Homo sapiens: one gene and its partners. The protein of the gene in region 5 purifies or fractionates together with the protein of the main gene of each other region. This does not show direct contact. Each region holds a gene or a part of one and is shown on either strand. Other genes may lie near its edges.

The links.
Region 1: the proteins of ERAP1 (region 5) and MUL1 purify together in Homo sapiens (affinity purification with mass spectrometry; 2 studies listed by BioGRID and IntAct, with this or other methods). This does not show direct contact.
Region 2: the proteins of ERAP1 (region 5) and APOL2 purify together in Homo sapiens (affinity purification with mass spectrometry; 2 studies listed by BioGRID and IntAct, with this or other methods). This does not show direct contact.
Region 3: the proteins of ERAP1 (region 5) and POLD3 purify together in Homo sapiens (tandem affinity purification; one large-scale study listed by IntAct). This does not show direct contact.
Region 4: the proteins of ERAP1 (region 5) and MYB purify together in Homo sapiens (co-immunoprecipitation; one large-scale study listed by IntAct). This does not show direct contact.

What each region holds. Positions count from the first base shown.
Region 1 is NC_000001.11:20,502,050-20,505,151, forward strand, and holds part of MUL1 (mitochondrial ubiquitin ligase activator of NFKB 1), read right to left. Parts: intron 1,261-3,102; coding exon 1,173-1,260; intron 141-1,172; coding exon 20-140; intron 1-19. UniProt on the Homo sapiens protein: Exhibits weak E3 ubiquitin-protein ligase activity. E3 ubiquitin ligases accept ubiquitin from an E2 ubiquitin-conjugating enzyme in the form of a thioester and then directly transfer the ubiquitin to targeted substrates.
Region 2 is NC_000022.11:36,228,185-36,234,639, forward strand, and holds part of APOL2 (apolipoprotein L2), read right to left. Parts: intron 6,152-6,455; exon of another isoform or gene 6,052-6,151; intron 5,272-6,051; 5' UTR 5,218-5,271; intron 5,058-5,217; 5' UTR 4,979-5,057; coding exon 4,969-4,978; intron 3,283-4,968; coding exon 3,156-3,282; intron 97-3,155; coding exon 1-96.
Region 3 is NC_000011.10:74,614,807-74,621,261, reverse strand, and holds part of POLD3 (DNA polymerase delta subunit 3), read right to left. Parts: intron 2,726-6,455; coding exon 2,458-2,725; intron 1,246-2,457; coding exon 1,173-1,245; intron 1-1,172. UniProt on the Homo sapiens protein: Accessory component of both the DNA polymerase delta complex and the DNA polymerase zeta complex.
Region 4 is NC_000006.12:135,193,629-135,200,083, reverse strand, and holds part of MYB (transcriptional activator Myb), read right to left. Parts: intron 6,247-6,455; coding exon 6,166-6,246; intron 5,729-6,165; coding exon 5,624-5,728; intron 5,125-5,623; exon of another isoform or gene 5,003-5,124; intron 4,337-5,002; coding exon 4,082-4,336; intron 3,359-4,081; exon of another isoform or gene 3,176-3,358; intron 3,124-3,175; coding exon 2,761-3,123; intron 1,177-2,760; coding exon 1,034-1,176; intron 559-1,033; exon of another isoform or gene 503-558; intron 1-502. UniProt on the Homo sapiens protein: Transcriptional activator; DNA-binding protein that specifically recognize the sequence 5'-YAAC[GT]G-3'. Plays an important role in the control of proliferation and differentiation of hematopoietic progenitor cells.
Region 5 is NC_000005.10:96,782,581-96,789,035, forward strand, and holds part of ERAP1 (endoplasmic reticulum aminopeptidase 1 isoform b precursor), read right to left. Parts: intron 6,106-6,455; coding exon 5,951-6,105; intron 4,527-5,950; exon of another isoform or gene 3,970-4,526; coding exon 3,890-3,969; exon of another isoform or gene 3,392-3,889; coding exon 3,208-3,391; exon of another isoform or gene 2,805-3,207; intron 2,489-2,804; exon of another isoform or gene 1,501-2,488; coding exon 1,344-1,500; intron 656-1,343; coding exon 471-655; intron 1-470. UniProt on the Homo sapiens protein: Aminopeptidase that plays a central role in peptide trimming, a step required for the generation of most HLA class I-binding peptides.

The DNA of each region.
Region 1 (3,102 bases), on a different chromosome or scaffold from region 5:
GTGGAGAAGTGATACATACCAAAGGTGGGTGGTTCGATTCCACACCATCTTGTGCTCCTGAAGTGTCAGCCGCTGAATTACCCCCTTGCAGTTTTCCACAAACTGGCTGTTAAGCGTTTCTTTAACAGACCGCACAGCTCCTAAGTGGACACAAATTCTATTATTTCTGAAGAAGTTTTCTGCCCTCTCCTTTCAGATAATTTAAAATGTGTTTTCTGGTCTGGCACAGTAGGTCACACCTATAATCCCAACACTTTGGGAAGCCAAGTCAGAAGGATCACTTGGGGCCACGAGTTTGAGACCAGCCTGGTTAACACAGTGAGATTCCATCTTTACAAAAAATTAAAAAGTTAGCAGGGTGTGGTGGCATGTGCCTGTAGTCCCAGATACTTGGGAGGCTGAGGCAGGAGAATCACTTGAGCTCAGGAGTTTGAGGCTGCAGTGAGCTATGATCACACCACCATACTACAGCTACCTGGGTGACAGAGCCAAGACTCTATTTGAGACGGAGTCTCACTCTGTTACCCAGGCTGGAGTACAGTGGTGCAATCTTGGCTCACTGCAACCTCCGCCTCCCGGGTTCAAGCAATTCTCCTGCCTCAGCCCCCCGAGTAGCTGGGATTACGGGTATGTGCCACCACATCCAGCTAATTTTTGTATTTTTAGTAGAGACGGGGTTTCATCATGTCGACCAGGCTGGTCTCAAACTCCTGAGCTCAAGTGATCAGCCCATCTCAGCCTCCCAAAGTGCTGGGATTACAGGCATGAGCTACCACACCTGGCCTCAAAAAAAAATTTTTTTTTTAATTTAAAAAATGTTAAAAATTAAGTGTTTTCAGTTGACTTTTGCTAATTCATCAAAACAATGACATTCTGATCACCATAAGTCACATTTTAGAAGCACTCTCCTAAGCACTTTGCATGGATCACATAATTTGTCTTATAACAACCCCATAAAGGTAAGTATTATTTTCGAGATCAGGCAACAGTGGTTCAGGGAGGTTTGGTAATCTTAGCGATCACAAAGCAATAACCCATGTCTTTCTGACCCCAAAGTATGTTCTGGACCATGGACCCAACACCACAAAAGGCTCTTCATATTAGCCAAGATGATCTTTATCAATCTTTTGGGAAAAAGACGTTGTTTTCCATTGACCAATAAGCAAACATACCTTCTATAACAGCATAAGGCACGCATTTTCCTGGAGCTTCTGAAAGAATACTCTTTAAATCTTCACCCAAATGAACTTTTTTAGCTCCCTAAATAAAAAAAAAAAATTAAATTAATTGGCCATTGAACACTGACATGCTCAATCAAACTTACAGGCAAAAAAAAGAAAAAGATTCTATTTTTTTCGTGTCAAGAGAATATGGAAATTGGACAGGAAGGTGACTACTGAGAATCAGATTTCAAAGCTGTGTACATCAACAGGAATGGAGCCATGCCTCTGCCTCTTCCATCACTGCAGAATGGGGGTGCCACATACATTCTTGTTCCAGTTAACCAAAACCTATACTCCTTTTCATGTTAAGACTTTTTAGTGAAAATATAAAAGGTACTAGTCAATTTACATACCACAGACTGAACATCATTCAATCTCTTCCTGACAACACAGAGCTATGATCCAAAGGGTTCAGGTATAAAGTACCTAACCTATCACCTAGCACATGGCAGTGGTTTGAGAACTGGTAGGTGTTATTATTAATATTACCACATCTTTACGAACCAATGCTCTGCATTGTATGTTATTAAAAAAACAAAGCAGGGGGAGTTGCCTTTGCTTCAACAGGAAGACTGTTAACTGGTGCCAAATGCCATTCTACATTTTTTTTTTTTTTTGAGATGGGGTCTCACTGTTATACCCAGACTGGAGTGCAGTAGTGCAATCATGGCTCACTGCAGCCTCAACCTCCCAGGCTCAAGTGATCCTCCCACCTCAGGCCCCCAAGTTGCTGAGGCCATAGGCATGCACCACCACACCTGTCTAATTTTTTTATTTTGCAGAGACAGGGTCTCCCAATGTTGCCCAGGCTGGTGTTGAGCTCCTGAGCTCAAGCGATCCTCCTGCCTCGGCCTCCCAAAGTGCTGGGATTACGGGTGTGAGCCACCGCACCCAGTCTGTTCTACTTTTTGCCTTTTTCATGCTCATAATTAAGTGAGCACGGTTCTTTCTGCTGCTGTCTTCCTCTAACAATCCCTAGTTCTCCTCTGCCTTCCAACTCAGAGCGTCCAACCCACTGCACTTGGGAAACCAATCCTGTTACTGCTGTTTCAAAAATAAGAGAAAAGGAATAAAATCAACAATCATTTCCTGAGCATCTTTGTGCCAGGCACTGTGCTGGGTGTCAGAGATTCAGGACGAATAAAGGACCATCTCTGCTTTCAGGGTATTCCCAAAAACAACTCTTAAGGATGCCAGATTCAGTAACCTCTAAAGAGGTGATGTGATACAAGATGTATATGAAGGTCACTCTGAGTTTAAGCTACTGCTACACAGTAAGTGACAGGAGCAAGGTCAATCAAAATTTCTTAGCCACTTACACTGTGAAGATACCAAAATGACAGCAATAACAACTAACAATTTACTCATTATCTGTCTCCCTCCACTAGAATGTTAAACTCTAGGAGGGCTTGGACACTGTTTGTCCTGTTCACTGCTATCCCCCTAGTGCGGAGAACTGTGCCTGACACACAGCAAGCATTTAATACATTATTTGATTAATAAATTAATGAATAAGTAAGCATTTAAATATACTATGTACCAGGCAATATGCTAGGCACTTTAAATGCATAAACCACTTAATGCCCACACCATCCCTTTACGGTAGACATTATTATCACCAATTACAGACAAGGAAACAGGCTCAGAGAGGTGAAGTGATTTGCCCAAAGTGAGACAGCTAGTAAAGTATCCACCACAGGATGGCCAATTCGAATTTTAAAGGGGGAAGAGGGAGAATATGATCAGAAAGATCTGGAGTTTAATCTAGCGCCAATGCATCCACTGTGACTTGGGACAACTTCATTTATCTGAGTCTCAGGTTCCAAAACCATAAAGGACAGGGAAAATGCAATTTCACAGGATTTTTATGTGGGTTAAA
Region 2 (6,455 bases), on a different chromosome or scaffold from region 5:
CTGTGCTGCTGGTCTTTATCGTGGCGGTTTTTGTCCTTCATGACCATGTGACTTGCAAGCTTGTTCAGAGCTTTACGGAGCTCATCTGCCTCATCCCTGCACAAGGAAAGGTTAAAGGATTAAGAAATGCAGTTTCCCTATCTGTGAAATGAGCTCCATGCGATCTCTATCCTGTGTAAATTGCAGAGCTTTCACTATCAATCAAATAGAAACAAATTTTACAAATGGAATTAATTATCTTTCAAACTCAAACACATTTTGTTCATCATAGATATTCCTCAGTACTTATTCCATATGGAAATAAATATCTTAAAGGCACCTCAGATGCTCTTTCATGGTAGGTGTTTGATAAAGATGCCTCCTCACTCAAGGGCAGGTCAACACCGTGACTGCCAAAGTGTTTGGAGAGGGAAAACTCTGCAGATGAACAAAGAGCAGTGAGAGTGAGACAAAGAGACCTTATTACCAGGATGGCAGGAAAGTGAAGCATGAACTTTACCCAAAGAGAGGCCTTCCCTTTGTCCTCAGCTCCTGGGAAGTGATCTCCAGGCCCCTGGAATGTCCTGCCTGGTAGGAACATCTTTCTTTGCCTGGTGATTTGGCCACGGGACAGTATAGCGATGTGATGGATGATAGGGTTTGGGGCTATTTGGTGTCTTTCCTGACTTCCAGAGGACTTGGGGACTAAAGGTGTGAGATCTCAGGGAAGGGCTGGAGACTCTAGCCATGAGGGCAGCTTGTGATCCAGCCCCAGCAGATACTCTGGACACTAAGGCATGGGTTGAGAAAGAAGGACTTTCTCCTTGACCAACTCCAGCTGGGCTCTTCAGAGCTTCTTCTCCACTAGGCGCCGACCTTGGCCTTCCACACTCACCCACTGCTTTCTGGACTTGCACCACCTTGGCTCAGCAAGAATCTCCCCAAATCAGTTTAGGGAGGGTCCTCCCCGCTTGCTGTCTGAGCACCGTTTGTTATCTGATCATGCTCCTCACCCCCACCACTGGTGGTTGAGGGTCTGACCTGCCTTTGGCGAGAATCCTGTTAGGCCAGTTTAGCAGGAACCCCCCACTCTGGCGTCTCCTGTCAGTCCTGTTCCATCTCCCGCCCCCACCCTGGTGTTGGCTGTGACTCCCCCTCTGTCTTTACTATATTTGGAGCTGGGCTCAGTCTCCCTCCCCTGTAACAACAATCCTGAATAAAGGCTTCATTTCTGGTTTAATGTGATTCACAGGAATTTTTCCTTAACTGGGTGAGCTTCCCTGGTTGGCAACACCGCATGTGTTTTGTCCCACATTCACACAGGAGAACACAGCCTCCTGAGGACAATGAAGATTCACACCTGAAATCCTCCCAGACTCTGCCCTGTGTGTCTCTTCCTTAGGCTGATTTTAATCTGTGTTCTTTCCCTGTGATAAACCACAATCGTGCAATAGCAGTTTTCAGTGAGTTACGTGAGTCCTTCTAGTGAATTATAAAATCTAAGGATGATTTTAGGAATCCCCATAGATTTGCAGGTGGTGTCAAAGGTAAGGGTGCCCTCAGACATTGCAGTCTGGCTATCTCTGAGTACTTTGAATTCAAACAAAAACAAAACCTCAGAAAGACAGGAGATCACTTTGCCTGGCATCTGCTCCCTTCCAATGCCTCATGCCCTTTCACCTGGCTGAAGGCTACTGGGTGCGGCCACTGCCCCAGCTGACTGGAGTGGGAGATCTGGCTATTCATTCTGGCTCCACATGGACGCTCCAGCCACCTTACTGCCTCCTGACCTACCACCTGCACCCCCAACCTTCCAGGTCTCACTCGCAGGTGTCACCAGCCTAACTGATGCCTTAGCAGTGACAGCTTCACCTGTGTGCACAGCAAGGCCATGTGCAATTTTATGGAACCACTAGAAGACTCAAGACACTTTCAGAACCATCTATATAAATTGCTAATGCTGAAAAGACCTGAATTTGGTCAAGATGGTAGAGGAAGTGTTTTCCTCCTCGGTTGGGACTTTGTGAGTCTGCTCAGTACCCCTGAAATTACACAAATTGGCAGCAACTCATTCTACTTTGGAAATGGTCACTAAGGCATGCCATGGTAAGGAGCTTCTCTGTGTAGAAGAGAAGAAGGTCTGAAAGGGTAGTCCAGAACTCACCAGTTCCAAGGCATGGGGTGAGAGACACAGGCTACCATGACCCTGTATGCCCATGAGTGTTGGGATCATCCAGACAGGGAAGAAATATCCCTCTCCCACTCACATGTCCTCTGCAAGTTCATGACCTCCTTAAGTTTCAAGCCCTTGGTGCCTCTCTTTCCACACCCTAGTCCCAGCCCTGGTGCCCCAGCCTTCCTGCTTGTCCTACCAAACCAAGGCTGACTCTTACTCCATCCTGACTCCAGGCTCTGACACTGGTCCCGGTCTCTCTGGGCCTTTGAGCAGGATCTTAGTCCTTGGTTCCCCACCTTTGACCTGGAGTTGCCTCTAAGGCCTTCACCACACTCCTATGACATTGAATTGCTATTCCTATTGGACAGAAGACAGTTCCAAGTCTCCATGACATAAGCCCAGAGCCCAGGAACTAGGCCTCTCAGGATCCTGGACCAGCAGAAGGGTCCTGCTGTGTTTGTGGAATTCTTCAGATGAGAAAAAAGGCCCCAGCCAGCATCCCCAGGAACACATATTGTTTAGGTTAGGATTTTTCTGACTTTTCCCAAAGGAAGTCCTGCTGGGCTCCCATCTTCAAGAAGAAGATCCTTAACCCTGGTCTCTTTCCACCAAGCTTGTAAGATGTTAACGTTAACTGTGCACCTACTATGTGTCAGTCATTATGCTAAGCACTTTACATGCATGATCTCATTTTTCTCATAATAAAACTCCATTGATGAAGAAAGGCTGAAAGTGAGAAAGTAACTGGCAAAGTTCCCATCACCAGCAGATGGCAGAAATGACCCTGTTCCTGTGGGCTTCCTATCCCCTCAGCCTGAGGCTACTCACTGCCAGCGAAGGACATGGAGGAAATATTCCTCCTGGAGTGCCGAGAAGGTCATCCTCAAGCCCAGCAGAGGGGGCTGCCTGGAGGAGGTGTGCCTGTCAGGGACAACCAGCCCAGGGGAGATCTGAGTGGCATCGCTGGGGCGCCCCATGGAGTTAACCCCATGGAGCTTACCTGGGCAGTTCAGCAGCAGCCACGAATCCATTCCAGGCTTCATCATCAGTCAGCAGTTGTAGCAGATTCTCTCTGCTCACTTGGTCCTGGAAATACTTAAGGTAATCCTCAATAAAGATACTGCTCTCTAGTTGGAAAGAAGAAAGGATAAGGTTGGAGGATAGTGTAGGGGAGCATAACAGCCATTGCACATTAGGTGGTTACATGTTAATTTTTCCTGGACAACTGTGATGTGGGACATGTTTGATGGAGTCATCAGTGCTATAGAGGGATTGTGTGCCCCCAAAATTCATATGCTGAAGCCCTAAACTCGAGTGACTATATTTGAAGATTGGGCCTTTAAGGAAGCAATTAAGACTGAATGAGATCACAAGGGTAGGGCTCTAATCCTACTAGAGGGCTAGTGTCCTATTGTAAGAAGAGAAAGAGAAACAATAAGGCCAGGTAAGCACACAGCGCAAAGGCAGCTGCCGCAAGCCAGCAAGAGAGTCCTCCCAAGGCTCCAACCCCTTAATTTAATAAACCATCAAAGACAGAAACCCCAAACCCCACTGGGCCCAACTGGCTCTTCTGAGTCCACCTGCACTTCCATCCCTGAGCCTGTGCTTCTGCTTTGCAGCTGATTTGTTTTTTCTTTGACTCAAATTTTTTCTCTCAGTGGAGTCAAAAACCTGGACAAGGCTAAGGTCTGGTCTCTCCTGGATTCGGAGAACTTCCTAAACCCACCAGCACCAATGTGACCAGGAATTTTCCAAAAAGGTAAATCAAAACAGGCAGTTTTGTAACTGCAACCAATCAAATAATGTCCTTATTGCAGTTTCATATTTACTCGATAAATACTTGTCTCTGACACTTTTTCATCATAACATGAAGCCTCTTCCAGTTTGGTTTTCTCAATTCATGAATTCCTTCTTATTCAAATAAATGTTACTGTGCCTCAGATTTTTCTTTGACAAGGGGTATCTGAGATCATGGGAATGAGGCCCTGCCTGAGGCAGTCATCCCTGGTCAGCAGGTGCTTGTGATGGGCAGTGCAGGGCGGGTGCCCTAACACAGATGAGGGGACTGGGTGGCTTCCACCTGGAATCAACAGGGGATAGATAGAGGAGATAGAGGGGATGCAAACTAATTCTTAGGGAGGCCCTACTGTGTGGCAGGCTTTGGCCAGGCCAGGTACCCTTATAATATTTAATCTTCGTGACAACATGGGGAAATATTATTTTCATGGTACACGAGAGGGGAGGTAAGGAGCTCCAGGTCACACAGAAGGGACTTGGAAAAGGCCAGACCGGGGTCCATTTAAGTTGGAAGCTGGGTCAAGCATGATACATTCCCATAGGGCCACTCAGAACAGAGGGGCTGGTGCAGGGCAAGAGCTGGAGGGAGGGGACCGGCCTGTGCTGGAAAAAACCCTGGGTCAGCAGGGAGAAGAGCGGTAGATAAGAGATCAGGGCTGCAGGTCAACCTCCTCTCCCACCCCTCCCCTCCTCCTGGACCCTGCTCTTCCCCCACTCCCCTCTCTTGCTTGTTCCACTTCCTCATGGCTGTCCTGCCCCACTTGAGTCATCTGCTGGGTGACAGGGTAGGGAGGAAGTGGGCACCTGGGCCGTGTCACCCCGAGGAGAGGTCAGGATGCAGATGACCCCCAGACCCCTGGGTCGGGGGACTCCACGTGACCTCTTCTGCTGCTCGGGGCAGACTCATTGGCCTCCTAGTCCATCTGGGTTCTTCTGGGGCTCACTCAGCTGTGGAGGTGCCACCCTCCATTCTAGGTGCGAGTAGGAACTAGCCAGGAAAGAGGAAGCGAGCCTACCTGGGTTCATGGTGCCAGCGGCTGGGTTACCGAGGGGCTTTCCTTGGAGCTCTCCAGTCACTGTCCAGACTGGAAGGTTTTCCTTAACCCTTGAGAACGAGAAAACAAATTGTGGGATCGAAGGTGAGCCTCCTGTGTACAGAGGGAGGCTGGAGGGGCTGGGTCTTTGCAGATCCCTCTGTGGTAGCAGCAAATGTCCAGAGTGTTTATCTCCTGGGGCCCTGCCAGCTAGTATTTACAGAAACTCACCTCGTTCCAGCTTCCTCTTCCCTCACTCTCACACCAAGGCAGGGTCCTCTTGTCCTGTAGGGGTATGAGAAGAAGATAATCAGAGGAGGGGCAGCCATCTGATCATTACAGAAACTACAGAGTCTATACACAGGAATAGAGATGGGAGGGAACATTCTGACAATGACCTGGGCCTGGGAACATGTATGATAACTAGTTGATGATAGCCAGTGTGTATTGTGTGTCTGTGATGTGCATGGCCTCTGACATGTATCTCATTCGATGATCACACACAGGACAGGAGATGGGTACCACTTTCCCATTTGAACACAGAGGAATCCACAAAAGTTAGGGAACTTATGGGTGTTTTCACAATAGTGCTAGAGCCAGGACTTCTGCTTCAATCCCATGTCTTCAATTACTGTGCTCTACTCCCTTAAATATACAATATTGAGTCATGTATACACGCTCATGGTAAATGACTCCTCATTGCAAATCCCTGTCTCACACTCTGTGCTCAACTCTTCGTCTTGGTGAACTCACTGGTGCTGCAGTGGACAGCCTGTGTCCCCGTTGCTTCTCTAAGATTCTTTGTCCCACAAAGACCTGGATCCTGCTAGATGCCGGCCCAGCCCCTGCTGTGGCTGCCGAGCCCTCCTGATGCTTCCCCGTCCCCTCTGCTGTCCTCCCCTAGCTGATGGACCTTAGGGTGTTTCTAATTCTTCATATAAATTATGCTACAAAGAATATCCTCCCTCACGTAAAACTGCTCACATTTGAGATTATTTCCTTAAGATACTTTTAAGAGTAGAATGACTAGGTCAAAAGCTATTAACATCTCAAAAGTTTTTATACCTAGAGCCACTCTGTATGAAAACTGTACAAATTCACACTCAAACTAACAGGATATGAAGATGTCCATTCTTTCAGTCTTACTGGCTCTCAGTAGTCTTTTCTTCAGGAAAACAAAACAAAACAAAACATTATTCCTTGAGACAAGGTCTCACTCCTAGTATGCAGCCCAGGCTGCTGGCAAAATCCTGGCCTTAGGGGATCCTCCCACCCTGCCCTCTAAAGTGCTGGATTACAAACATGAGCCACGACACCCGGCCTGAATAAATGCTGATCTTTATATAGAGGAAAGTTCTTCACATTCTGCTCCTGATTATCTTACCCTGGGAGGTGAGGGAAAATAGCAAATGTTAATCATATTAATCATCTTTAGGCACTGTTTTAAGAAGACAGAAGAGCATTTATCA
Region 3 (6,455 bases), on a different chromosome or scaffold from region 5:
ATCTGACAGGAGGTGGAGTTCAGGCATAATAACGCTTGCTCATTTGCTGCTCACCTCCTGTGCCACCCGGTTCCCAAGAGGCCACGGACTGCTACCCATCAGTGGACTGTGGGTTGGAGACCTGTTTTAACAGAAGTAGGAAGCATTCCCTGTGCACCAACTGTGCCTGCAGTAATACAATAATGCTTCCGAGTAACCTTTAAGTATCACATTTTCCATTCACTTTTCTAGTTACCCATTCTGAGCTGCAAGAACACAAAAACGTTCTCTGATAGCTTTTACAGCAAACACAAAAACTGTCACCCTTACATAAGCAGAATATGAAAAAAAAAAAAAAGTCACTTCAATCCCTCCCGTGACCACCAATTTAGCCATCATGGAAAGGCAGAATTCTAACTAATTTTGCTTGCATAGGCATGTAACAAAATGCCTCCTTGAAAAATCTTTGTAAAACTGATGCTCCAAGAAAGTGTGCCATAATTATCCTGTGGCTCCTGCATTCTTCCTGGTATTCTACCACATACTCTCAGGGGATGTACACTTGATATGAGAAGTATGAAAATATGTGACTACTGGTTCTTTCCATACGAAAGAATTCTTACTTAAGTATCTTTTTAAAAATAAAGAAGATTTTTGCTTTCTCAAAAAAGATTTTTAAATGTCCATTACTACTTGGGCCCTTCTAATTCACACTGGAAGTCTAATTCATTACTGTGAGTAATCTGCAAAAAATAACTGAAGAAAGGCAAAATATTTGCTTTTGTGGACCCTTGAGAGATAGAAGAAATAAAGGTCACACCAGGCAAACTGACTCTAGCATCCACGTTATTAACCTCAACACTATACTGCGTAGCCAGGCAGCCTCCCTTTTATTTTAATCACCCATTTTCAAGGGCCCTATGAAGCAAATAGTTCATTATCTTTTCAAGGCAGGAAGTTAAACCAGGAATAATAAACTGCTCTCAAAGAGATCTCAACTGAGCCTAACTCACCCATAAAGTTCTAGCTGAGTTACTTTCATCAATATATTGGGCAGTACACTGGAAATTTGTTAGAATGCAGGTAGTCTCTTGGATTGGCAAAAACTAGACAAAGTGGCTTTCACTTCAGGTATAATATGTCATTACATTAACATTCATTCGTTAGTCAAAGTGAGGTAAGAACATGCTTACTCATAGCAGCTTTTCCAAAAAAGTTGCTCATCATATTCCCTTTCCCTGGTGCCTTGTTGCCTGCTGCAGATGCCTACAAGCACAGAAAACACATATGATTTTTTGCTGGCATTTAGGCTGTTCATGAAGTAGCAGTCTCAAACAAACTCTTCTATAGCAAACTGTTGCGATGGTATAGTCTCTATATAATCATGCCAAAACGCGTAGGTGTTAGATATAAGAACAAATCTAGAACAATAATCCACACCAGACAGTAACTGGTGTTAATCTCTAAAGCTTAGTTTCTTATATATCTTATAAAATTAATTATCCATGGATATAGCTAAACTTTTCTTGAGCACATTTAAAAACTATTTAATTTGACAGAATTAAAAAAGATCAGAGGCAGTATGTACACAAAGCGGGAAAACCTAAAACATTACATTTTTAATCATCAGAAGTAGATCTGAATTCCTGGTTCCCACCATTTAGTAGCAATATGGGCTCCAGGCAAATTACTTAAGTCTAGGTTTCAGTTTTACCATATGCGAAAGGGAAATAGTTAATATCTCCCTCACAGAACTGATAAGAGGATTTAAACAAAGACACTGGCACACAGTTGAAATTCAATAAACGTTAGTGTTTTCCTCCATCCTTCTTCTTTCCCAAGACAGACGCTTGAAAATGACAGTGATCTGAATTAAATACACTTGACACTGGAAAATGACAGTGATAATAATAATAGTAACAACAATAATTATGCTTTTCTGGATTTTTAAAATAGTATCTTAATGATACTTTTCTTAAGTCAATGCCCTTGAGTTAGTTCAGATGACTGAACAATAAAAATCTAAGAGAAGCAAATAAGGCAAAAACAAAACAAAAAAACCTGCATAAAGTATAAGAATGGGAAATACACTAGGAAGGAAGGTATATGTTGCAAAGCCCAGAATATAAGATGTTCCTCAGAAAGACATATTGCAAATAAACATTTTTTTGAATGTCAACAATTCTCGAGGTGTTTTCACATGTTTTCATCTGGGTTTCACAACAATCTTGTAATGTGCACAAGGTAGGCATTACCATTTTGCAAAGGAAATCCAAGGTTTGGTGAGAATCATTATCAAAAGCAAAAGAACTCTTTCAGATAACAATATCAAGTATTAAAGGGTTCAAACTAAAGTAGAAAAATCAGAACTGAATATCAGAATCTTATATAAATAAACTACTACCACTGCAACCATTAATGCTTTTCTAGTTACCCACTCTGAGCTGCAATGAAGGGGTATCTTCAAAGAAGACTTACATTTGTTACTTCTTTAGCCTCTGTTTTCGTTTCCTTGTTGGTTTCTTGGGTTTTAGCAGCAGCTTTGGAGGCAAACATTCCCATAATTCCTTTGGGCTGCTGGGAAACCTGCTTGGATGCAGGTGGGCCATGACCATTGGTGGTCAGCTCATTGTTGGCTTGTGTCTCACTTGACATGTGAAGATGTGACTGCTCAAACTTTTTGGAAGACGAAGAGGATTCAGCAGGAGCTCTAGGGACGGCAGCTGCACATTGTATAGCACTAAATCTGGGGACAGAAATGTTACATTAAGTTAATGTCAGCATATGCATTCTTGGGTGGTTCAACAAAAAAAGAAAAAAAAAACTAATGTCAGTATAAAACTTTATTTTCAAACTCTTGCTTCTTCCACACAATACTTAACTCTAATATTGTTTAGAATCGACTTTAGAAAAATGTATGAAACTCTCTATTACATAAAGAAACAAATATTAGAGAGAAGTGAGTCACTTTTACTAGGTTATACATCTAGTTAGTAATAGATAGGATTGGAATTAGGTGCCTTCTACCACTAATTGAATATTCTTGTTTTTGATAAAAGTATTCTAATTCAAAAGAGTAGGAATGCAACCAACAATAATAAAAGATGCAGTAATTTCATTATCCTTGGGAAATGAAATAGCCTTTGTTTTTAAAGACCTTCCTCTGATAGGGCTAGATTTGCAATATTGACTGAATCAAAACTAAGCTTTAAATATTAACAAATTTCCTGGCAACTCTCTTGGCCAGAGTAAATCATGCTGTAGGGTTGGGCGCATTGGCTCACGCTTGTAATCCCAGCGGTTTGGGAACCTGAGGCGGGCGGATCGCTTAAGCCTAGGAATTTAAGATGGGCCTGGGCAACATGGTGAAACCTTGTCTCTACAAAAAATACAAAAATTAGTTGGGTGTAGTGGCGCATGCCTATAGCCCTGATTACTCAGGAGGCTGAGGTAGGAGGATCACCTGAATCCAGGAGGTCAAGGCTGCAGTGAGCCATGAGCTCATCACTCAACTCCAGCCTAGGAACAGAGTGAGATGCTGTCTCAAAATAAATAAATAAATCATGCTTTAAAACAAAGAAGAGGCCAGGTGCAGTGGCTCACGCCTGTAATCCCAGCACTTTGGGAGGCCAAGGCAGGTGGATCATGAGGTCAGGAGTTCAAGACCAGCCTGGCCAACATGGTGAAACCCCGTCTCTACTGAAAATACAAAAATTAGCTGGGCGTGGTGGCACGCGCCTGTAGTCCCAGCTACTCAGGAGGCTGAGGCAAGAGAATTGCTTGAACCCAGGAGGCAGAGGTTGCAGTGAGCCAAGATCACACTACTGCGCTCCAGCCTAGGCGACACAGCAATACTCTGTCTCAAAATGAAAAACAAAAAAAAATGGGAGAAGCTGGAAGCAGAGCCACTGGCTCCTATAACCTATAGTCCTTTACAGCCATTTGTTAATAATTTCTAATAATACTAACAGCACCGGACAAGTAAGTATGCCCAAGGCCAAGAGAAGAAAATTGGTGGAACAGCTTGTGTGGCATATTAAAGGGAACATACATCTCTCTCTAATCATTATAGAAGTGCCGTTTCACACAAATCCATAATGTAACATTCCACATTGTGAATGGGTAATTGATTTAGCCTTCTCAAAGGATTGTACTTAAAGCAAAGTTCCCCAGCTTTTTCTAACAAAGAAAAATATTTTATTTTTCCCAGTCTTGCTTATTGAGCATATGTAAGACCTCCTTGAAGTCTTATTTATCTTTTTTATTTCAGGCACCCAGCTCAAGACCTGGCACATAGAAAAGTGCTGGAAACGACATGTTGAAAGAATGACTAAGTGAATGAAAGTGAGGCTTCTGGCTTCTCTCCCTTCTTTAGTGTATCACCTTCAACTTGGGGTGGGAGATTTCTAAACTATGTGGTGATGGCAATTATCTTAAAAGATCAACCAGGCACAACTTCAAGATTAACTGCTAGAATACCTGGCCTAATGAAAAAAAAAAATCCCTGATACATCATTTCATCTCAGAAGTAACTTTAGACTGGGCAGCCCCAAAGCTAGAGTCAAAAGCTCCAAAAATCTTCCACTGATTTATTATGGTCTTCATCAGAAAACTCTGTATTTACACACATCTTTTATGCATCAGAGTTAAGAACAGACGGAAATCATTTGCTTTCACCCACTGCTCTTCCTCTCTGACCTTGCAGTGCTTCCATATACAAGGAAAAGAGTAATGTTTTATTTCACTGTCAACGTCTGAAGTTGGCCTTGAAACAACTCTTTCTCCTCTGGTCTGAATTCTACACCATAGGGTCAGGACCAGGAATTGGCAATGAGGAAGAGACCGAGTTAGGCTAGGAGTATGTCTGATGACAAGAGATCTCTGCTCAATCCTAAAATTTCAACTCTCTTCATGTCACGGCACTTCTTAAAACACACGAAATCATAAGTGAGATCTCAGTTGGCCCATAATTCTCAGGACTAAATACAAACTCATTTGTTGGAGATAAATTCACTTTTCTACTGAGGATACTTTAAGTATTTAGGTAAAGTTTCACTGAAGTGCTTCCTATTACCACATTTCTACTTGCCATGTTTATTTTAGTGGGCCCTGGCAGATTTCATTTTGAACTTTTGCGTCACTTTTATTCTTGTTTGCTTACTTGCTAGATATAACAAGGGAACTGATTTTTAGAGCCTGGAATACCCAACTAGATTTTAAAATTTTTTGAAATCTAGTAATATATTTCAAATAAACTTATCAGGGTGTTAATATTTTCTTGAAATCCTTCCCTAAAAGATAAGAGACTTGTAAATTATTCCTCTTTGGCCATATATTTATTTAATAAATATTTGTATGCTTATTATACTCAAGGTTTTGAGCTAAAGAAAAAAAAAGAACTAATGTCTATCATTAATTCACTCAGTAACTACTTATTAGTGTGCCAGGCACTATTTTGGGTATATAGTTAACAATTTAGACACGATCCCTATTCTCATGGAACTTATAGAAACTATGGCAATTCTATATCTTTCTCTCCTTGAGGACCCATCTTTATCAGTCATACCACCTCCCCAGGATTTTCAACCTTTTCTTCCTACAGCACCTTTCTAACAACCCAAGTTCAAGTCATTCTCAACTTAAGAAATGTATATATCCTTCCCGTCTCAATCCCTCCTTAGCTACCACCCTCTTTTCTGCTTTGCAGTCTAATCTCCTGGAAAGAGCTGTCCATATTTGCTGTCTCACTTCCTCTGTCCCCATTTACTTAGCTCACCAGAATCTGGTCACTCCACTGAAAATGCTCTTACCAAGGCTATCACTAAATGTCATGGACAATTTTCACTTCCTAACTTACTTGGCTTCTCAGCATTGTTTGACATTGTTGACTGGTTCCTCCTACTTGAACCTCTTTCCTTAGGGGCTGAAACCCCATATACTCTTATCTCTGGTGGCTCCCCTTGGGCCCCTCTTTTTCTATTCTTCCCTTGAAAAGCAGCTATCATTAAATAGTGCTTACTATGTGCCAAGTGCTATTCTAAGTGCTTAACATATAATAGTCCATTTAATCCTCTACAACCCTATCTGGCTGGTACTACTGTCAGCTTTACTGACAAGAACAGGGAGGCACTGAGAGGTTAAATAATTTGCCCAAGGTCAGACAACTAGTACTTTGGCCTAGAGTTTTACTTTCTGCCCTTCTTTCATTCTATACATTCTCTCTGATAACTCTATCTACTGCTATGGCCCATTTACTATTCTGATTTCAAAATCTCTATCTTTACCCCAGATTTCTCTCCTTAGCTCTAGATTCACCTATCTTTTGCGATGGACATCCTCACTTGGATTTCTCACAAGCTTCTCAAACTCAACATCTCTAAAACCCAATTTGTCATTTTTCTATCTCTCCTAAAGCCTGCTCCTCCTGTTATATTCCCCTTCTTAGTACCCAGCTGCCCAAGCCAGAAGCATGGGTA
Region 4 (6,455 bases), on a different chromosome or scaffold from region 5:
TTTAAAAAGAAAACAAGCAGTGGCTCAATACAAAAGAATAAATGTCCCTACATGGCTTTACCTGTTACATTTAACATTTTTCCACTGAATACAATAAACTCTGTTCCGGATATGGAATTGGGGTGTGCTGATTAATCACGTTATTCGTTAAGAAAAAGAGAATATGCATATCACATATTTTCAAATATTTCAAAATATTATACCTCGAAGACTAAAAGCATTAAATGATTTAACATCTTTCCTTAATGGCTCTGAAGACACATGTAGTGCCTATGATCTGTATAAGACTATGAGCATCAAGAAGACCTGATGTCATTTACAAATCAGGTTTCCCTATTCATGAAAACAGAGCCCATACTACAAAACATGTTAAACTTTTAAAATTTACTTTTTGTACTTCGAAATAACAGTGCATTTCTTTTCAAGGTTTCTGATAATTCACACTTTCTCTACCATTTCTCTGAATTGATTAAGGCTTTATTGAATAAAAATGACTGCTTACTCATCCCTTGGCTTCTAATCATATAATATTCCTGGGGATGTCAGAAGAGGTCCTATCTACACATAAATTCAAAAAGAAAAAATAAGATTAAAAAATACAAACTAAAAATAAATAAATAATAAACAAATAAAATTAAATAAAAATACAAACTAGGTAAGAAACCATACTCGTTCTTATTCTGAAGCTTACAATTAGAGAGGAAAGGAGGTTGAAAATCTGGCTTTCATAAGAAGGCCTTATGGAGGGAACAAACAAACCGAATGGAAAAGTTTTATGAAAACTACTTGTGCATATATAGGAAATTTTGGAGTAAGTTACAAAAGGAATCTAGTTTATCTTCCCATCTTCTACCTGTAGGTAGTTGTAATATGCCCAGGACAGATATATTCAATGTGGGAATAGACATGATTATATATAAATGGTCAGTAAAATTATGCACATACAAGTGGATCAGACATCTGGGAACTATATTCCATTAATTAAATATAAGTAAATAAGATAAATCATTTTATTCCTGAACCAAAGACTTACACAGTATTTTCCTTTTGAGTTTTCACAGTCTGGTCTCTATGAAATGGTGTTGTAACAGTCAATTTGTGACCAATGAGGGGGGTGGAAGTTAAAGAAGGCATTTCCAAGTCTGAGTTTTCATGGTTACTGGAAGTGTTTAAGAACTAAATATGGAGAGAAAGAAAAAATACTTAGATTAGATGGTAATTCTTTATTCTCCCCAATTTAAAAATCACACCTAGATAACAAGAATGTTTTCCTGACCCACTATATTAAATAATAAAGATGCTAACAAGCATGTTATATTGACTAGGGTATTGTTTTATTTCAATTGAGCACCCAGGATTTGGGTGTGGTTTCCAAGAAATAAAATTTAGGGTCATTGCTGAAAAACTTGCAAAACTGTGAGAAAATACTCTCAATAAATGACACTTGTCATTAAAGAGAATGAGATGTGTTCTTTATTAACATTTAAAAGGCTTTAGTGATTTTGGGGAAAATAATAGTTAATAATTAATAGTTTCCTTTCATACTTTGTTTTTTCTCTTTAATAATCTATGAACCAAAATTAGTATTACAGAAGGTTTACATTATATGGAAAATTCTTGAATAATAAACTGTGTCTCTCAGAACACTAAAGTTCTGGGAAAAAACTAGGTGTTCCTTAAACAATTCCAAGGTAAAATAAATTTGGGAAACACAACATATCATAATCTCCTCCTGGAAATTCACAAGGCACAACGGCATATTAATAACTCTGAGAAGGCCTGCAGTTAAAAAAAAGAAAGTTTTTAAAGAAATGGGATCTCGCTATGTTCACCAGGCTGAACTTGAACTCCTGTGCTTAAGCAATCCTCTTGCCTTAGCTTCCCCAGTAGCTAGGACTACAGGCCCATGCCACTATGCCCAGCTAAGAAACCTACTTGTAACTTTGTTTGATTCAGTGTTTCCCAAATGTATATACCTATATCATACCTAAATCTGTTCTTAAAACAAATTCAACAGATACAATTGGAAAAATGTTTTAAAGTGCCAAATTATCTATTAATTTAATTATTTAAATAATTTAGGAACACAAATCTCTGATAAGAATTGTGATTTTCATGCCTTAAAAAAGCTGTATGAAATAAAAATATTCCTTGGCAAAAACTGCACTAGTAAAATAGTATGGCACAACTCAAAAGAGCCAATGTTGAGAAACTGAAATTAAAAATATGTTCTTTTCCTTAAGCATTTGTTTCTCATCCTCTTCCCAAACTCTTCCATTTAAAGATGAATTGGAACCTTTAAATTTTCTAGCTTTAAATTTTCTAGTTGCAACCCAAATGTTATATAAACACAATTTGGTTCCCTCCTCCCCTGGGTCAGTGAATCGCATAAGAATAAATGAACAACGAGGAAGAAATGATGTTAACAATTTTAAAGGGAGGGATCAGATGGGAGAAAAAGAAAGGGACAGAAATGTTAAACTCTAGTGTTGAAGGAAATAAAAGTACGTTTCATGCAACTATCTTTCAAAACCACCCAAAAGTAAAAGAGAGAGAATGATGCCAAAATCAACAGTTAGCCTGCAGACAGCCTAAACTTTGGGAGGCAGTATAACTTAGCAACAGCTAGATTCAACGACAGAATGAAATCAGCAAAGGCAGCAGTAATTAGTCATTTGTTCCGAAGTATTAGTTTCTAGATTATTAAGGCTCAGGTGTCTGTTGAAAATGAGTAACAGCTGTGCAGAAATTGTGTTCTACCTGCGAGGGAGAGAAGGGTAGGCTTTTGACAGGGGAACGCTTGGGAGTTGAACTGCTGACGTCAGCAAATATGAAGGAGCTACAGTCTCCAGTGGCTAAGGGGCTGGCCTGGCCCCGTTTTTTTCGAAGGATGACCAGTGGAATTGTGCTGTGCCTTGCAGGAGGTAAGACCTTGGGTGGGTCAAGTGAACTCTCACTCAACATACGTTTGTTCACCCTTGGGCTAGGTTCTCCTGCAGGTTTAGTCCCATTGCCCTCTCTTTGCTGAAGCTGTAGGGCTTTGCCTGTGTGATGTTGGCTAGGTGAAAAATCTGCTTCTTCAAAGAATTCAAAACTGCTGAGATCACACCATGATGAAGAATCCTGAAACAATGTGGGAGGCACAGAACTTTGAGATAGTGTGTGCCATCATCACCTGAAACAGCACTGAGAGAGAGATGCTCAACGCAAAGCAAACACTAGGCCCGTTGGTTTGGCTTCTTGAGCAACAGCTTCAAGATGAGCAGTTGCTCTATTATACTGCAGTAGAGCAGGGTCTAGTGGGCTGCCTCAAGGCTGGCCCTCTGATGTGCTGCAGGGACCTCCCGACACTCTACATCTGCATGCAATGGAAAGCAAAATGAAGACCTTTTCTAGATGGCATATTACGGCAATGGTCATCTCCTAACCAATGAGTGTGCAATAAATGATTTTTAATCAACTGGGAAAGGAACCAAGTGTTCGCTGAGGAGGTGCTGAATACAAATTTGTTTCACGAAAGATGATTCATCTCAGTGAAGCAATGGGACCAGTAATCAATAATCACCATTTTGTGGAAAGAGCCAGGTATGACCAAGGAGCTGATTATTACTTCAAATACACTAAAAGATTGCTTTCAGCTCTGAGTAAGCCAAATCATTAATGTGCTGTTCAAAAGCAAGACAAAATTCTAGAGAAGCACCATGAAGTAAGCAAAGAAAAAAAAAAGTTAAAAGTAACTCAAACACCATTCCGTTCCCATAATCCAAGCTCTGCTTTATAAGTCATCAATCTGACTATTTTTAAAAATATGACTTTTGAAGGAAAAGTGTGAAAATGTGAAAAAAAACTCTTCCTTCAAAAGTCCTATTTTGTAAGTATTTATAAATACTTTTGTCTCTCTCGGTAGGCTATGAAATCAGATCTTTGAAAAAACATATTCATGAAGATGAAAATCATACTTCTACCTTTACATTAATATATGCTAATAACAGCTTGGCTATAGAAAATGGCAATGATTTAAGAAATGGGTTTTCTAATTTATCTTCCAGAATCGTTAACTTCCCTTCACAATTCTACTTACAGAATCTATAAATTGGAGTGTTTCTGCAAATTCTAAGAGGTTCTTAACATTATCCAGAATGGTGCCCTGGTGGACGATCATGCACCTTGCTGGCGAGGCGCTTTCTTCAGGTAGGGAGCCAGGATCCGCTGGCAGAGATGGAGTGGAGTGGTGTTCTCCCAAACAGGAAACAGGTGCACTGTCTCCATGAGGTCTGGTGTGGTCGGCAATGGTGGTGCTGTGCCACCCGGGGTAGCTGCATGTGTGGTTCTGTGTCTAAGGAAGGGGGAAGGGTGTAGAAATAAAGAGAGGACAGAAGAAAGGGAGAAGGAACTTAGCAATGAAGTTGCACAAGGTATCAGATGCTGTTGGAGGAAAGATAAGAGTAGTTGCATCATCCCAAACTTACGCCTATGAAACAGTTGTCAAGATGTTTCCTTTTATCAATGCAAGACCCTGTTTTTAATAGTGCTAGAGGTTGTACCTATATGATTACCTTGTTATCATTTTGTAAAAATGTCAAATCATAGGTCTATATTTCGAAGTATAATTATCATATTGTCTTAAAATTCCACTTTAATATAATTTGCCAAAGGTCCATAAATGCTTGCTGTGAGTGAAGAACTGAAGAACTGTCCTATTTGCATTCTAACCACAAAAAAGCTAGAGGACTCAGGAGTTAGAGTTGCTTTGATCTACACATATTCTTGTTGCTTCTATCCCTTTCTAATGCTACAGATTGCACTGATGCAGTGAAGCACTGCCAAATCAACGTGGTTAGGAAAGCAGAAGAGCAAATTAACAGAAGTCTCCTTACAGTATGACCACACAACAGGAGAAATTGCAAAACATTAACTAAAGTTAAAAAGTGGTCGAACTAGCATGTGCACATAAACATCTTATTATTTAACAAAAAATAAATTTACCCCTAGGAATACCTACTGGGCATCACTTCTCTTTTATTGTCTTTGTTGGTTAACTATGTATGTTGCAAAGCACAAGGAGCCATCCCAGTTGGCTGCCCAGTCGCTAAAGATGTCAGAATTCAGTAATGGCCCACATAACTTTCACACATGCAAATAAAAGAGAGCAGCTAATGTTATTTATGAAGAGGTTTTATATATAACCTTTTACATGTATATACTGAACATGCATCAAATCATGTCTGAAATTATAAAATATGAAAATATAGGTTAACAAAATAATAGAAAAAAACCAAAATGGTACCATATAGATACATAGCTCTGTAGAAAATGCAGATTTTCATTCATTTTATCTTTGCTAGTCTTTAAACTGATTATAGTCCTTCTGAAGAAAAAAATTGATGATAACAATCATAAGTGGATATTGCATTTTTATTGCAATTACAAAAAGACTGCTTCCAATTTAATCAGCATATAATCTGATACCAACTACATTTTACTACAAGCAACTTCTTGTGTTGAGACATTCTGAATGGATATATGGAGCCTTGCTAAGTGTAATATTTAGAAGAGAAGAGCGCTTAGGTAAACTGAGGCAAAGCTGCTATCCCCTCATTCAAGCACATGATGACAGTCTTACTGGTAGCACCTGCTGTCCTTTTAGCTCATTCTCGGTTGACATTAGGAGCAATTCTAATTCCTTTATTCGCTTTTCCTTCTCAGGGTCTTCATCATTATAGTGTCTCTGAAATTACAAAGTAAGGGAAATAAAGACAAAGGTCTGATTGGAAGCTGCAAATACAATGGGTGTAGCCAATATGGTCATGAGGTGCCGCACAGCCCAAAGAGCCTCACTGTGACAACACCACCAACCAAATTTGGCTCCTGCAGAAATCTTTGTGAATGTTATTTCAGACTTAAGGGAGTGATGTGAAATCTCAGGCTAGAGTGGATGCTGACTGATGAGTTATTTCACCTTGCAACATCAAAGAATCAGAAAATTCCAGAGCAAACTCATTCTAGAAGACAAGATTAATAGATTGCTGGCCAAGACTCTGCTCTCCTCTCCATGTTCCCTTTCCTTTTTACTTTAGTTGCTCAGGTAAAAATATGTGTTTAGATGAAAGAAATAAGCATTTCTTAAAAGTGGTGCTTTGAACAGTGAATGATCAATGATCTTACCTGAATGGCTGCGGCAGCTGGCTGAGGGACATTGACTATATTTACATGTAACGCTACAGGGTATGGAACATGACTGGAGACCTAGATGCAAAAGACAAAACAAAGGCCACGTCATTCAGGGCTACATATGCTTCAGGGGACTTGGCTTCCTGAGGTTTCGTTCTGGGACTGAGAGAAAAAAAACACTTTACTGATAAAATACACTAAACAAATTTTTAAAACCTTTTAATGTGAAATTTAGCCAGGCCTTTAAAATGGCTAAACAGCTAAAGGAACATGGTGAAAAATCC
Region 5 (6,455 bases):
CCTGGGTGGGGTTTAAGCTCCAAATGTAAAAAGGACTGAAGTGTAGCAAGAATAGGGATTTCCAGATACGGTAAAATCCTACCTTGCTTAGACAGTGTCAGCAATTACTATGCATCCCTGTCAGGGAATTTGGAAGCCCAAAGAAACTACTATAAAATACAATGCATGTGTTTCTCTATGGCATGGCTGTCACCGTTTAATAAGATTTTGCATTGCCTATACAAAATGAGAATTATTCCCATACCATCCTAACTCCCCAGATATTTGACTTTTATGCATAGAAGTTCCCTCCTAGCATTTCTTAAAGTTACGAGATACATAGATAAATCTTAAAAAGCAATTTATTTTCCAGAAAAGGGCAGCAGGGGAGACACTTAAACTTTTTGTTTTCCCTAATGTTTAGTACCAATGATGGAAAACAGAAAAGATGCCCTTCACATCAACAAATTGGTTATTTAGTAAGGACTGACCTCAAGTTTCCATTGGATTCCTTCCACTTTCTGAAATAGCCTTCTGCCCTCTGTACGCACGGCTGATAGTTGTGCACACAGGCGAGGAGTAGTAGTTGACTCCGCAGCATTCGCTCTGAGACTGAGCCCTCGTCTGTCCATGTCTGCTTATCAATGAGGTCCCTTAGCAGCCTGATGAGGAAGGCCTGAGGGCGTTGTACAGGGAAACAGGGACCAGTATTGTCACAGGTCATTTCATGTTAATATAATCCATTATGGTCTCAGATGATGGGGGCTAATTTTTAAAGCATAATCTAACTTTTACTGTATAAATCATGCAGCACTGTTTAATTATAAAAGGGCCAAAAACAATAAATAATGATGAATGACTTTCATATTTTCATAACAAACTTTTATAAGATATCCATCTACTTAAAGTCAGGATGAATTGCGACTTTTAAAACAAACTCAAAGAGAGTTTACATGACTAAATTTTGAGAGCAAATTATGCAACAAGACTTCAGGACATTTTGCCAAGCATAACAATTTTGTGCCTCTTCCTCAAGTACCATGAAGAGTCCCAGAAAATCTGAACGTCAGCCATTGTAATAGGAAAGGAAAATGAAATAAAAGGTTTGTGAAAGGAAGGAAATAACAAATCCATGCAAATTAAATAGAGTCTAAGAATGCCATTCCTATTTTTAGTGCCAAATAAAACCAAAATCTTGCTAGTCCATCTAAATACTGAACTAATATTTATTTGCTTTTCCTTAATATGTATATAAAGATACACACACACACACACACACACACACACACACACACATACACACACAATGATTAACACTTTTTAACACAAATAATAATTACATAACTTTTATTTCAGGCTTTTACCTTGAATTGAGTTTCCACTTCATTCATATCTCTTTTCTCCATTAACTTATACATAGGAATCAGCTCATTCAAACCTTGAAACACGGGCATAATTTCAGTTTCATGTTTCAAGTACAGGGATAAATCCAAGGCCTTTTCAATGGACAGCTTCCCAATGCTGACCAAGAGACACTGTGGTTAGTGGTTTAAAAGTAAATCCGGGAAGTCAACTTTTTGCTTCAAAATATATTTTAATCTTCTAGCAAAACAAGCAATCAGATATAAATGTCCCTTATAAATAGATAACTACGGCCGGGCGCGGTGGCTCATGCCTGTAATCCCAGCACTTTAGGAGGCCAAGGCAGGTGGATCACCTGAGGTCGGGAGTTCAAGACCAGCCTGGCCAACATGGTGAAACCCCGTCTCTACTAAAAATACATAAAATAGGCAGGCATGGTGGCAGGTACTTGGTATGTGGGAGGCTGAGGCCGGAGAATCACTTGAACCCGGGAGGCAGAGGCGGTGAGCTGAGATGGCACCACTGCACTCCAGCCTGGGCGACAGAGTGAGACTCCATCTCCAAAAAATAAATAAACAAACAGATAGATAACTACTATATAAGTCTCTTTTCTATCACATATAACACAACATCCGGCATGTTTACACTAGGGAGGAAGTTTCTCAAACAGTAACGTCTAGGGCTAACGTGGATAAGCCGGAAAGGAAGCACATCAGCATCTATCCCTGTGAAACACTGGATTGAGTGGTGAACTTCTAGAGTAAGCAAGGGATTTCCATCAAAGACCCTTTAGGAAGCCTGGTCAAACAGACTATCATCTGGTCAAAACCATGAGTTCCTGGAGGAAACACATTTTCTTCTCCATTTCAAAGACACTGCATATCCTTAGAAACCCTTCATTACAGAGGGTTAGTGTTAAAAACCTCAGTGGTAGGGTATATATTATATAAGTTAAAAAATAAAAAAGAAGAAGCCCTCTAAGGCTCAAGCAGAAATATTCTACAGAGGGGAATTTTTTAGGCAGAAAGAAACAGCTAGGTAAGCAACCCATAACTTTCTCCCCCATTGCTTTTTCTCACTTCAGGAGGCCCAGTATGGTGGTGAGAAGAACCAGAAGGCACTCAAAATTTAGGCCAGAAGGATACGGGTATGAGGAGAAAGAGATAATCCTTCCCACCTGCATGCTTCCTCTTAGGACTTTAGGTCTGCCTACATGTTGAAGAAGTTTGAGTTTTAGGCTTTGGGAGCATTTCCTTAAAAACCATTGTCATGGGGGAGGAAAAAAAAAGGGTAGTGTTAATTCTGTCTTCACACACTCAGAGATCATTTGGTTGGGCTACATTTTATGAGCTATATTCCATAAAGATGCTGCAAAGTTCAGGTATCTGGTTTAGGAAAGAAAAAAAAATCCCTTCTTTAACCCAAGAAATGTAATGCAAACAACTTGGGCCTGTGTCACTTAGTCTTCTAAGAAGACTTCAAGGCTGTTATAAAGACCCAGTGGTGGGAGAAACCTGATCCGGTATAGCGGGGCCAGAAGAAGCTGCGGGACCATGCCGCGGGGACAAGGCAAGGAGTTTCGCCAGGATGTTGATCTCCTGGTTATCTACACTTCCGCCTCAGTATGATCTGAATTATTAATGAGAAAGATTAAGATACAGATTCCTTCCTTCAAGTGCCTTAGTAGTCACAGACAGGAGGTTAATTATAAGACTAAAAGCAATCTTGGGTTGTTAGAAGAACTTAAAGGAAAACACCTTTCAACTTCTTGTTATCAATCAATCATTTTTGTCTTTAGAAATCAAGAATTTGAACAATAACAGCTGCTTTCAGAAATAAACCGCGACTTTGTGCAGCGTGTATTACCTGACGAGCTGAAATGCATTGTTAATGAGACTCGCCCGATCATTACTGCTGACTGCTGTGTGTGTTCCTTTTAAAAGGCCAGTCAAAGAGTCCCATCCATCATCCTCGTAATGCACAATGTAATAGCCATTCATGCCCACATTAAATTTGATCCATTCCACCTCTTCTGGGAGGATGAGCACATCTAGAGTAAATAAAATAAATCAAAGTTCCATTTGCTCCCCTGCCTGAAGAAAGCTTTTCTCATCCAAGATTGGGCAAGGAAATTAGAGAAGAGTTTAATACTGAAAAATTTGAAAACATCACTTATTTCTCTCAGAAACCAGAAAACAGCAACTCAATAGACAAAAGCTAACACTAGCTTTAGACATCAATTTTGTGAGATTTACAGATCTATGAAAAGAATGGCAACTACATCTCTGGCCATACATATGATATAACCCAGTAATGTTAACAAAGTAATAGTGAATGTTCACTGGTAATCCCTCCTTTTTAGCATTATATAATTCAGCTATAATCTCTATCTGGCAAGATATTGGCCATTCTTCTTTGAAACCAGAAAGCATTTTCAATCTGATCCCTTTTGCTTTAACCAAGATAAATAGCAAAAGAAACAGCACTTTAATCCTACACATTTTCACATTCCTCCTTGAATTAACTAGTAGTTTCCAAAATAAATTACCTGTTTTTGTTTTTAGCAAAAATCGATGGACCATGTCGGATTTGCTGGTGATGAATGTCAATGGAACATGCCACAGGTACCTAAAATAAAGGAGAGGTGGATTGTTCATTTGTTGATTCAATTCAACAAGCAGTTATTAAATCACCTATCATGTGCCAGGCACTGGTTAGTTTAGAACAAGATAGTACCAAAACTGCTACAGCCAAGCTCTCAAAACATCCCCAGTCTGTTTTCCAGCTTTGTAGGGAGTGTCAGCTCGGGCACTATTTCCTTTTCTTGGACTCCTTGAGTAGAGCTAAGAATTTGGACTCACGTGAACCCTGAAAGCCTTTTTACAGTGATTGGCTGATTGCATCTCAGAGGCCTAACTTCAGGACTCATGTGCCTCCTGAATAGTATATTAGGAAGGACACAATATCACCTCCTTGGGATTCCTGTCAATGATATGTAAGCTGAACCTGATCATGGAGAAACAGCAGAAAATCCAAACTGAAAGGCATTCTATAAAATAACTGGCCAGTACTCTTCAAAAAATGTCAATATCGAGAAGCCCAAAAAAGACTGAAGAGTTGTTTCAGAAAAAAATGGAGACCAAAATGATGCAACAACTAAATAAAATAAGTGATCCTGTATTAAATCCTAAGTCAGAATTTATTTTCTATTTTGCTATAAGGATATTTTTAGGACAATTGGAAAAAGTTGAATGGGATTTATAGATAATAGTATTATATAAAGTTTATTTCCCAATTTTGATAATTGTACTGTGGCTATGGTTATATAACTGAATGTTCTTGTTTTTTGTTTGTTTGTTTTGAGATGGAGTTTCGCTCTTGTTGTCCAGGCTGGAGTGCAGTGGTGCGATCTCGGCTCACTGCAACCTCCACCTCCTGGGTACAAGCGATTCTCCTGCCTCACCCTCCTGAGTAGCTGGGACTACAGGCGCCCGCCACCATGCCCGGCTAATTTTTGTATTTTTAGTAGAGATGGTGTTTCACCATGTTGGCCAGGCTGGTCTCGAACTCCTAACCTCAGGTGATCCTCCTGCCTCGGCTTCCCAAAGTCCTGGTATTAAAGGCATGAGCCACTGTGACCGGCCATAAATGTTGTTTTGTAGAAAATACTATGCTGAAACATTTAGGTGTGAAGGGGAATCATGTCACCAATTTACTGTCAAACAGTTCAGAAAAACATATGCCAAGTATATACATACAGACATATGTATATAGGTATGTATGTAGATAGATGGATATCGATTAATCAAGATTTAAAACCTCCTTAATCCTTTTGGGAAGATGGGGGAGGGAGGTGTATATATTATATATATATATGTGTGTGTATATATATACACATATATATGTATATATACACACACACATATATCCACACAAACATATACATATATATATAGAGAGAGAGAGAGAGCAAGAGAGAGAGGGAGGTGAAGAAAGTAAAGGAGTAAAGAGTTAACATGTATCTAGGTAAAGGATATATAGGAATTTGTTGTGTTATTCTTGTAACTTCTCTATAAGTCTGAAATTGTTTCAAGATAAAAGAATTTTTTAACGGTATCCATCCAGGGTCAATCAAGTTGCAGCATCTTGTTTCTAATAATATTCTTCTATAGCATTAAGCTGACAAACAGGTTCCAAATCTAACTCAGAAGAAGACAACTGAGTCTCTCATCATTCTCGGAAATCACCTAAATTCTTTTGTCCTCAGCTCCAACCAAATGCTAGGCACTATTGTAATCTAGTAGCAGTTGCTTAGGTTGGAGTTGATTTCAAGCCAGTAACCAGAAATTACCATCATATCAAATTACAAAATATGAGAATGTTAAAGTAATTACATCGTCACCTTTACTGAGAATAACCAAGGTTTAAAGCCTCCTTAATCCTACTGGGAAGATGGGGGCAGGGAGTATAAGTCAACTTCATAGGATACACAGATGCAGCTGAAATATTTTAGCAATAGTGGTAAGGGCATTATTTCAAAAGCAAGGTTCCATCCTACAAGGCAGATGTTACCTAGACAACAAAACAAATTTTACTCTAGGAGCATTACCCAGTGTCCGGGGCGCCGTCAGAGCCCTTCATGTAGTGCTCTTGCTTCATGTGTACATTCCTCCCCCTCACTGTGATGGTTATTAGGGGAAAACCCTTCTGCAGTGTCCAAGTGTTCATCATGGTTTTCACATCCACCCCTTCCTGATGCCAATGCTGGTGTGTACACAAAAAGGCAGACACATCACCCATTTAACCCAACTCTAAGAAAAGAGAGAACACCAGCTTATGCTCAAACAGCCGCTACCAGTTGCCAACCTCCCCTCTTAGGAGCACTTTCTGATCCCTTTCTCAGTGTGATGTCCCCAGCCATCACACCTCCATTAGAGCACCAGCTGTTTGCTTGTCATTTTCCTCCACTACACATACGTGTCTGGAGGACAGGTAGCATACCTAGTTCTGCCGGGCACACTTTGGGGCTGGCAATAACACTGGGCACAAAGCAGGCATGTGAATGAATGAAGGAAGAGAAGGGAGAGAAAGTGCCAGGTTTTCAATACCTACCT